2 linked regions of the Homo sapiens genome follow. The protein of the gene in region 1 interacts with the protein of each later gene in a pairwise test. Each region holds a gene or a part of one and is shown on either strand. Other genes may lie near its edges.

The links. Proteins that work in one complex are often made in the same cells at the same time.
Region 2: the proteins of SH3BP5 (region 1) and MAN1A1 interact in a two-hybrid assay, tested with the Homo sapiens proteins (one large-scale study listed by IntAct).

What each region holds. Positions count from the first base shown.
Region 1 is NC_000003.12:15,322,365-15,326,281, reverse strand, and holds part of SH3BP5 (SH3 domain-binding protein 5), read left to right. Parts: intron 1-3,917. UniProt on the Homo sapiens protein: Functions as a guanine nucleotide exchange factor (GEF) with specificity for RAB11A and RAB25. Inhibits the auto- and transphosphorylation activity of BTK. Plays a negative regulatory role in BTK-related cytoplasmic signaling in B-cells.
Region 2 is NC_000006.12:119,199,762-119,203,492, reverse strand, and holds part of MAN1A1 (mannosyl-oligosaccharide 1,2-alpha-mannosidase IA), read left to right. Parts: intron 1-2,145; coding exon 2,146-2,239; intron 2,240-3,731. UniProt on the Homo sapiens protein: Involved in the maturation of Asn-linked oligosaccharides. Progressively trim alpha-1,2-linked mannose residues from Man(9)GlcNAc(2) to produce Man(5)GlcNAc(2).

The sequences.
Region 1 (3,917 bases):
AAAAGGGCCTCTGGATGCCAGCCATCTGCCGTGTCACTTGGATGTCTGTCTCTTCCTGCAACCTGGGTTTGCCTCTGACCTTATTTGAACAGTGCTGGGTCCCCTTTGCATGCTGATTTATATCAGCAAAAGCCAACCTTTTCAAGCTGTAAAAGGAGGAACCTTTTAACCAGAGAGCCCTTGGATATAAGCCTGATGTTTTAAGTTAGGAAAATAAGCATTTTCCCACAGATCCATTGATCAGTCAGCTTTATTTATTTATTGAGACAGGGTCTTGCTCTGTCACTCAGGCTGGAGTGCAGTGTCACAATCTCGGCTCACTGCAGCCTCAGCCTCCCGGGTTCAAGCGATTCTCCAGCTTCAGCCTCCCAAGTAGCCAGGACCAAAGGCTCACACCACCACGCTGGCTAATTTTTGTATTTTTAGGAAAGATGGGTTTTGCAATGTTGGCCAGGCCGGTTTCAAACTCTGGAGCTGAGAGCGATCTGCCTCCCTTGGCCTCACAAAATGCTGGGATTACAGGTGTGAGCCACTGCGCCTGACCAGCTTTTTAATTCACTAAGTATTTATTGAGCACCTACTACGTGATGGGGGCAATTTTCGGTGATGGGGACAGAGCAGTGAAGAGAATGGACAGAAGTCCCTGCTTTTCTGAGGCTTACATTGCAGAGGGGGTGGAAAACGCAATAAAAAGTTAAAATACACATGGTAGGTTATCTGATGTATACAAAGGAGGCAAAGAGCTGGAAGGGGACTCAGCTGGTGGGTGTTTGGAGGCAAGGGGAGGGAGAGGAATGCAGTATTGTCTGGAGAGAGTGAGCAAGCCTCAGGCCATGTGGGGGAAGAACATTCCAGCTGGAGGGCGCATCAGGGCTAAGCCTGGCTTAGCTGAGGGCCAGCAAGGGGGCCTTGTGCCAGGCATGGGCGAGTAATGGATGGAAGAGGAGGCAGTGAGTCAGAGATAAATGGGTCATTCAGGTGTGCGACAGCCCTGCTAGGTGAGATAGTAAAACTCAATATGCTGATGTAATTTTTAAATGCCTATTTTATAGGTCTGTCTCTTTTCAAATGTTTGTTAAAACAGAAGCCACACTGAGAATTTCTAAGTCTAATCAGAATAAAGATTTGTAATATTTTATGCCCATGTTTATGTGGTTTTAAGCACAATTTGTAATGTTTTCATCATTTCCCGTGCTTGCTCTGAAAGTGGGCTGTTCCAGGGCTGTGAAGGGGTCCGTCCTTTTCCTCATTGCTCAGGTCAGGTGGGAATAGTTTCTGCTTATACTTGCAGGGTGGTTTGAAAAATCTTTGTTTCTGAGTATCTGTGTTCCTCAAACATGCTTAAGCCAGCACTCATTATCTCTGCCTTTCCTCCCTCTGAAAACCAGCAAATGTTTTCTCTTAAAACTTTTTTTTTTTTTTTTTGGACCCAAGGAGCAATGGTACAAACAAAAACTCTGTTTTGAGCTTAGAAACTTGGAGGTGAGAGTAAACTGGAAGCTGCCCGGCCCCTCCCTCATGAATTATTAGCACAAATCAGGAGAAAAATTCCTCTATCAAAGGACAGTGATACGTCCCAGCACTTTCTCCATTAAAACGTGTGGGTGGAATGCACTAGGGACTAGGTCCTGTAAGACTCAGTTGTGCTTCGAAGAAACTGCTAGGGAATGTTTGAAGCATAGATAGACCGGGGGAGGGAGGAGTAACTGTTTCTTGAAGCTGCACCAGATTCCAGGCCTGGTGGCAGGCTGCCCGGTCTAAGCTGGCAGAGCCCCTACACCCCTGACCTTCTTGTACACAGGTGAGATCTGGTTGAAGTAAACATTGGCCTGGAGGCCTTCCTGCAGCAAATCCTGTGTGGGGCACTGGGGACCAGGGTGGTCAACAAATAATCAGGCACGTCCCTGCCTCATGGAGCTTGCCGTCTCCTGGATTCAAGCAAGCAATTGTAGTGGGGTGAGGGGGATTCTAGGAGAGTCACTCAGGGCCCTTTGAGAGGCCAAAGCTTTGTTGAAATAGGGGGCATCAGAGTTGAGGCCTGCAGACCCCAGATAGTCTGAAGAGATAACATCAGCCTTAAAGTGGAGGAGGAAGAGAGCTGACGGTACAGACATTGTCTGCAGGTTGAGGAAGGTTGGGGTGGGGAGAGGTGGAGTGTTAACAGGACCTTTGGTGATTGGTTGATTATAAAGAAAAAACACATGTGTGGTCTTTGCGTCTCTTCAGGGTAGCCTGAGCCAGGGCTGCTGCACTGCCCCCATAGCTCTGACTTGAAGTTTGGCCATCAGAATGGTGGTACTGAAGGCCTTGGGCTTCAGTGGTCCCCCCATACTGCTTATTTCCCTTTGGGGAAGTAGGTGAGTGGAGAAACATTTGAAACTTGTAGAGTGACTTAGCTATAGGACAGCCGGCAAAGCTTGGCCTCTGGAGCCAGACCGCCTGGCATTGAATCCCAGCTCCCTCTTCATAGCTGTGGGACCTCTGGCAGATTATGTAATTTCTGTGCCTCAATTTCTTCTTCTTTAAAATGGGATTGTGTCTCAGTTTTTGCTGTGAAATAACCAAAACCCAAAGCCGTGGGGAAGGGCAGGTGGAGGGAAGACAGCTGTCTTGACATCAGGTGATACAGGCTGAAATCAGAGGTCTGCTGACTTCTAGGGATACTTGGCACATGGAAGCCTCAGTCTCTTTGTCTTTGAATCTGGGGGCTGCAATTCTTGCCTACATCCCTGGGTAGCCTGGAGGATGGTAAGGGATGCTGTGTGAGAGAGTGCTTTGAGAGCTGCCCAGCCTGAGTGGACAAGAGGGCCCCCTGTGTGCTTGGCTGGCAGGGAGGGCTGAGACCCGCTGGGCGCTGCAAACAGAGAAGGTTCCAATGAGATGTCCACTGGGGCCAAACTGGCCATGGGGCCTGGCAGTGGCTCTGTTGTTCTCTTCCCCCAGGTCCTGCCATGACCTTTCTTTGTCAGATTGGCACTGGGAAGGGGGTCAGAGGGAGGGCTCATACAGGCCAGGATTACAGCGGGATGGACTTTGTAGTCACTGGATCAGCAGGGCGTTGCGCTGTGGCCTGCCTGCTGTAATGTGAAAATTAGTTTCCCTGAGTGAGCCCTGCTTTATTTATTTATTTATTTATTTATTTATTTATTTATTTGAGACAGGGTCTCAAAAACCGGAGTGCAATGATGTGATCTCTGCCACTGCAACCACTGCCTCCCAGGTTCAAGCGATTTTCGTGCCTTAGCCTCCCGAGTAGCTGGGATTACAGGCATGTGCCACCACACCCGGCTAATTTTTGTGTTTTTGGTAGAGACCGGGTTTTGCCATGTTGGTCAGGCTGGTCAACTCCTGACCTCAAATGATTCGCCTACTGCAGCCTCCCAAAGTGCTAGTATTACAGGCGTGAGCTACTGCGCCCGGCCTCCCGCTTTGTTTTTGTTTTTTCCTGAGACAGTGTTGGTCTCTGTTGCCCAGGGTAGGGTGCAGTGGCACAATCATAGCTCCCTGGAGCCTCGAACTCCTGGGCTCAAGTGATCCTCCCACCTCAGTCTCCCAAGTAGCTGGGACTACAGGAGTGCGCCACCACGCCTGGCTAATTTTTGTTTTTGTAGAGATGGGGTCTCTCCTTGTTGCCCAGGCTGGTCTCAAACTCCTGGGCTCAAGCAGTCCTCCTGCCTCGGCTTCCCAAAGTGTTGGGATTACAGGCATGAGCCGCCACACCCGGCCTCCCAGGCTGTTCTTGGACAGACTGACCGTGAGGACAGTTGTGACACTGGTAAAACACAACCTTGTGTTCTCCTTTCCCTCCCCAGAACCTGTCCACTTAGGCACATGTTGGCTCATGAACATGTAAGATTCTGCCTTGCTTGGGGGCGTTAGCATTTTAAGAGTGGCCTTTCACTTTAAAAAAAGATGAT
Region 2 (3,731 bases), on another chromosome or scaffold:
GTGGCCTGTGGGGCCTGGGTGACCTGGGCCCTGGCTCTCCTCTCCTCTACCTGCTGACATTCTCCCCTTTGTCTCCTCACCTCTGGCCTCAGTAGCATTGCAAACCTGCTGTCTCCTCAGGGCCTTTGTACTTGCTCCTCTCTCTGTTCCGAGTGCTCTTCCTCCACATTTCCACGTGGCCTACTCCCTCACTTCTTTAATATTCTGCTCAAACACCTCCGCCTTGCCAGGCCACTCTGACTAACATGGGATAGCCTCTCCACATCACCCTGTCCCGTTAACTCTCAATCAGCTCGGGTTACCATAACAAAAATGCAGCCAGAAACAACCGAAATTTATTTCTTACAGTTCTGGAGGCTGGGAAATCCAAGATCAAACTGCCCATGAGGTAGGTTTTATTCTGAGCCTCTTCCCTGGGCTTGTAGATGACGAGAACTGTCCCAGTGTGTGTTCACATGATGTCTTCTTTGTGCTCTGAGGGAGAGAAGGAGTCACAGAGAGAGAGAGAGAGCTCTTGTGTCTCTCATGAGGGCACTAATCCCATTTAAGGCTCTACCGTCATAACCTAATTACCATCTCCAAATAAATCTCCAAATACAATCACACTGGGAAGTAGGGTTTCAGCATATGAAATTAGGGGTATGCAGTTCAATCCATAGCACCCTTTTATTTTTTTCCACAGTATTTATCATCTCCTGACATACTATACAGTTAGGTGTTACTTAACAGTGTTTATTCAACAGTGGACCACATATGTGACAGTGGTCCTGTAAGTTTATAATGGAGTTGACAAAATTCCTACGGCCTTGTGACATCATAGTTGTCATAATGTCGTAGTGCAATGCGTTACTTACATGTTTGTGGTGGTGATGGCATAAACATACTCTACTCCCAGTCACATAAAAGTATAGCACATATAATTATGTACAGTACATAATATTTGATAATTAAATGACTGCATTACTGATTTATGTACTACTATGGTTTTTATTGTTATTTTAGAATGTACCACTTTTTTTTTAAGTTAGCTCTAGAAGCAAGGTCCTTCAAGAGGTATTCCTCTTCAAGGCATTATCATCACAGGAGTTGACAGCTCCATGCGTGCTACTGCCCCTGAAAGACCTTCCAGTGCGATAAGATGTAGAAGTGGAAGACAGTGATATTGATGGTCCTGTGGAGTCCTAAGCTAATGTGTATATGTGTCTTAGTTTTTAACAAAAAGTTTAAAAAGTTAAACAACTTTAAAAAGAAATTTTAAATAGAAAAAACTTATAAGAATATAAAGAAAGAAAATATTTTGGTACAACTATACAAAGTGTGTTTTAAGCTAATGGTTATTACAAAAGAGTCAAAATTTTTTTAATTAAAAAGTTTATAAAGTAAAATTACAGTAAACTAACGTTAATTTATTATTGAAAGAAAAATACTTTTATAAATGTATTAATAATGGCTAAGTGTACCATGTTTATAAAGTTTACAGTACTATACAGTAACGTCCCAGGCCTTCACATTCACTTATTACTCACTTACTAACTCATCCACTGCAACTTCCAGTCCTGCGAGTTTCATTCATGATAAATGCCCTATACAAAGTGCCCTGTATTTATGTATAGGGTTATAAAATGTATAACCCTATAGAAAGGTATCATTTTTCATCTTTTATAGTGTATTTTTCTGTGTTTAGATACACAAATACTTCAGTACAGTAACATATGCTACACAGGTTTGTAACCTAGAAACAGTAGGCTGTGCCAACTACATTTGTGACAGTGTGCTCTATGATGTTTGTACAAGAATTAAATTGCCTGTGTTTCCCAGCATGTATCCCTGTCATTAAGGGACACATGACTAGACTTATTGATTTATTGTCTGTCCCGTCCCACTAGGATGCACAATTCTAAGAGTGTGGTGACTTTGTTTATCCACTGGCCCCTTGTTCCTAGTATGGCATCTGGCTAATGGTAGATAACTAATCAGTGTGACTATATTCACTTACTGCCATTATGTTTGTAATAATAAGCTAACAGCAGTTATCTTTGTTCTAACTCTGCATCATTTAAGTCAACTTGTATGTTCAAGAAGAAGAAGAATGGCATGAAAATTGTTTTTTAGATTTTCACGGTAACATTTTATTTTCTATTATAGGTAATGAATATTCGAACAGTACTGAACAAACTGGAAAAACCACAAGGCCTTTATCCTAACTATCTGAATCCCAGTAGTGGACAGTGGGGTCAACGTAAGTCAGAAGATTTGCATTATTATAGCTCTTTTTGGTACTGTACTCGTGGAGAGAGAGGAAGCACAAAAGCAGCACAGATTTTGTTGAGAAATGTTTAGAAAAGGAGAAAAGGGCATGGCTCCTTTAATAAACAGGCTTCTGTCATCAGATTGTGTTATTAGGACACTGGATTGTGTATTTTTCATATATAACTCCAAGTGTGATGACATATAAGCACATTTACAGCTATTAATCAGAAAGGGAAGATCTGGCCAGAGTAGTGTGGGGATGTTAATCTGTAACAAGCTGGTCATGTGGATAGAAAGGAAATTCATTCCTTTGTACTAATGACTATGAGGGTTTTATAGAGAGTAGGTAGACCATTCTGCTTCCTAACATTCTGTTTCTGCATGGCTATATAATGAGAGAGGAGCCTGAATTTTTAAGAGTTGGGAAATTGGAAGAGCAAACAGCCTGTTTTTCTCTTCTTAATTTTAAGCTGCCAGATATAAAGGTTTCTTGCCAGTAGAATTACCTTTAGGATGGGAGAAAGTATTGCACAAGAACTTTTGATCCTAGAAGCCTGCACTTAAGACTCTTCAGACGATTTTGAGCAGGGGCATAAAGATTCAGAGTAGTTGAAAGAAATGTTCTCAAGCTGATTTGGAAAAACAGTAGTAGATTAAATAGCTGAAAACAAGTGAAGAATATTGAGATACCCAACTGTAGCAAGAGTACACTGCCTTAAGATTTTACTCTAATTTGGGTTTTTTCTTTATATTTTAATATCATGTTCTTAGATACCTCATTATTACTTTAGAAGTACTTTTCTTAAAGAATAGTTTAATAGGAAAGTATATGCCAAAATCCATATGCTAAAATATGTCTGTAGCTCTGGAAGGCCTAGCTGTTGAAACCTTAGGACTATAATCAAGGTTACCACTTACCTAAGTGTGGTCAACAGATCACTGGAAGTCCTTGAGACCTCTGAGGAGGCCCACAAGGTCAAAAATATTTTTATTATAATACTAGTATAATGATATATAATAACAAGACATATAATACATGTCTTAGTCATATTTACTAAGCCAGTACACAGTATCTTGCACTTAGTGGATGTTTACTTACTTAAATTTTGTGAATACATATGTGCTCTGTATCTCATCTCTCTTTCTGCCTCTGCTTTTAATAGTGGTACTTTGAAAGACTTTCTGCCTTTTCTAATGTGTTGATATTTACACCTACAGTGTTAGGTGATACTGCTGAAGCCTCACTGAGAACAAAGGCGAACAAACACCAAATAGTACTAATATTCATATTTTTTCTTTTTTTTTTCTTTTTTGTGGGACAGGGTCCCACTGTGTCACCCAGGCTGGAGTACAGTGTCATAATCTCAGCTCATTGCAACCTCTGCCTCCTGGGCTCAAGCTGGGCTCAAGCTATCTTCCCACCTCGGCCCCCCGCCCCGAGTAGCTGGGACTACAGGTGCACGATGCCATGCTCAGCCAAT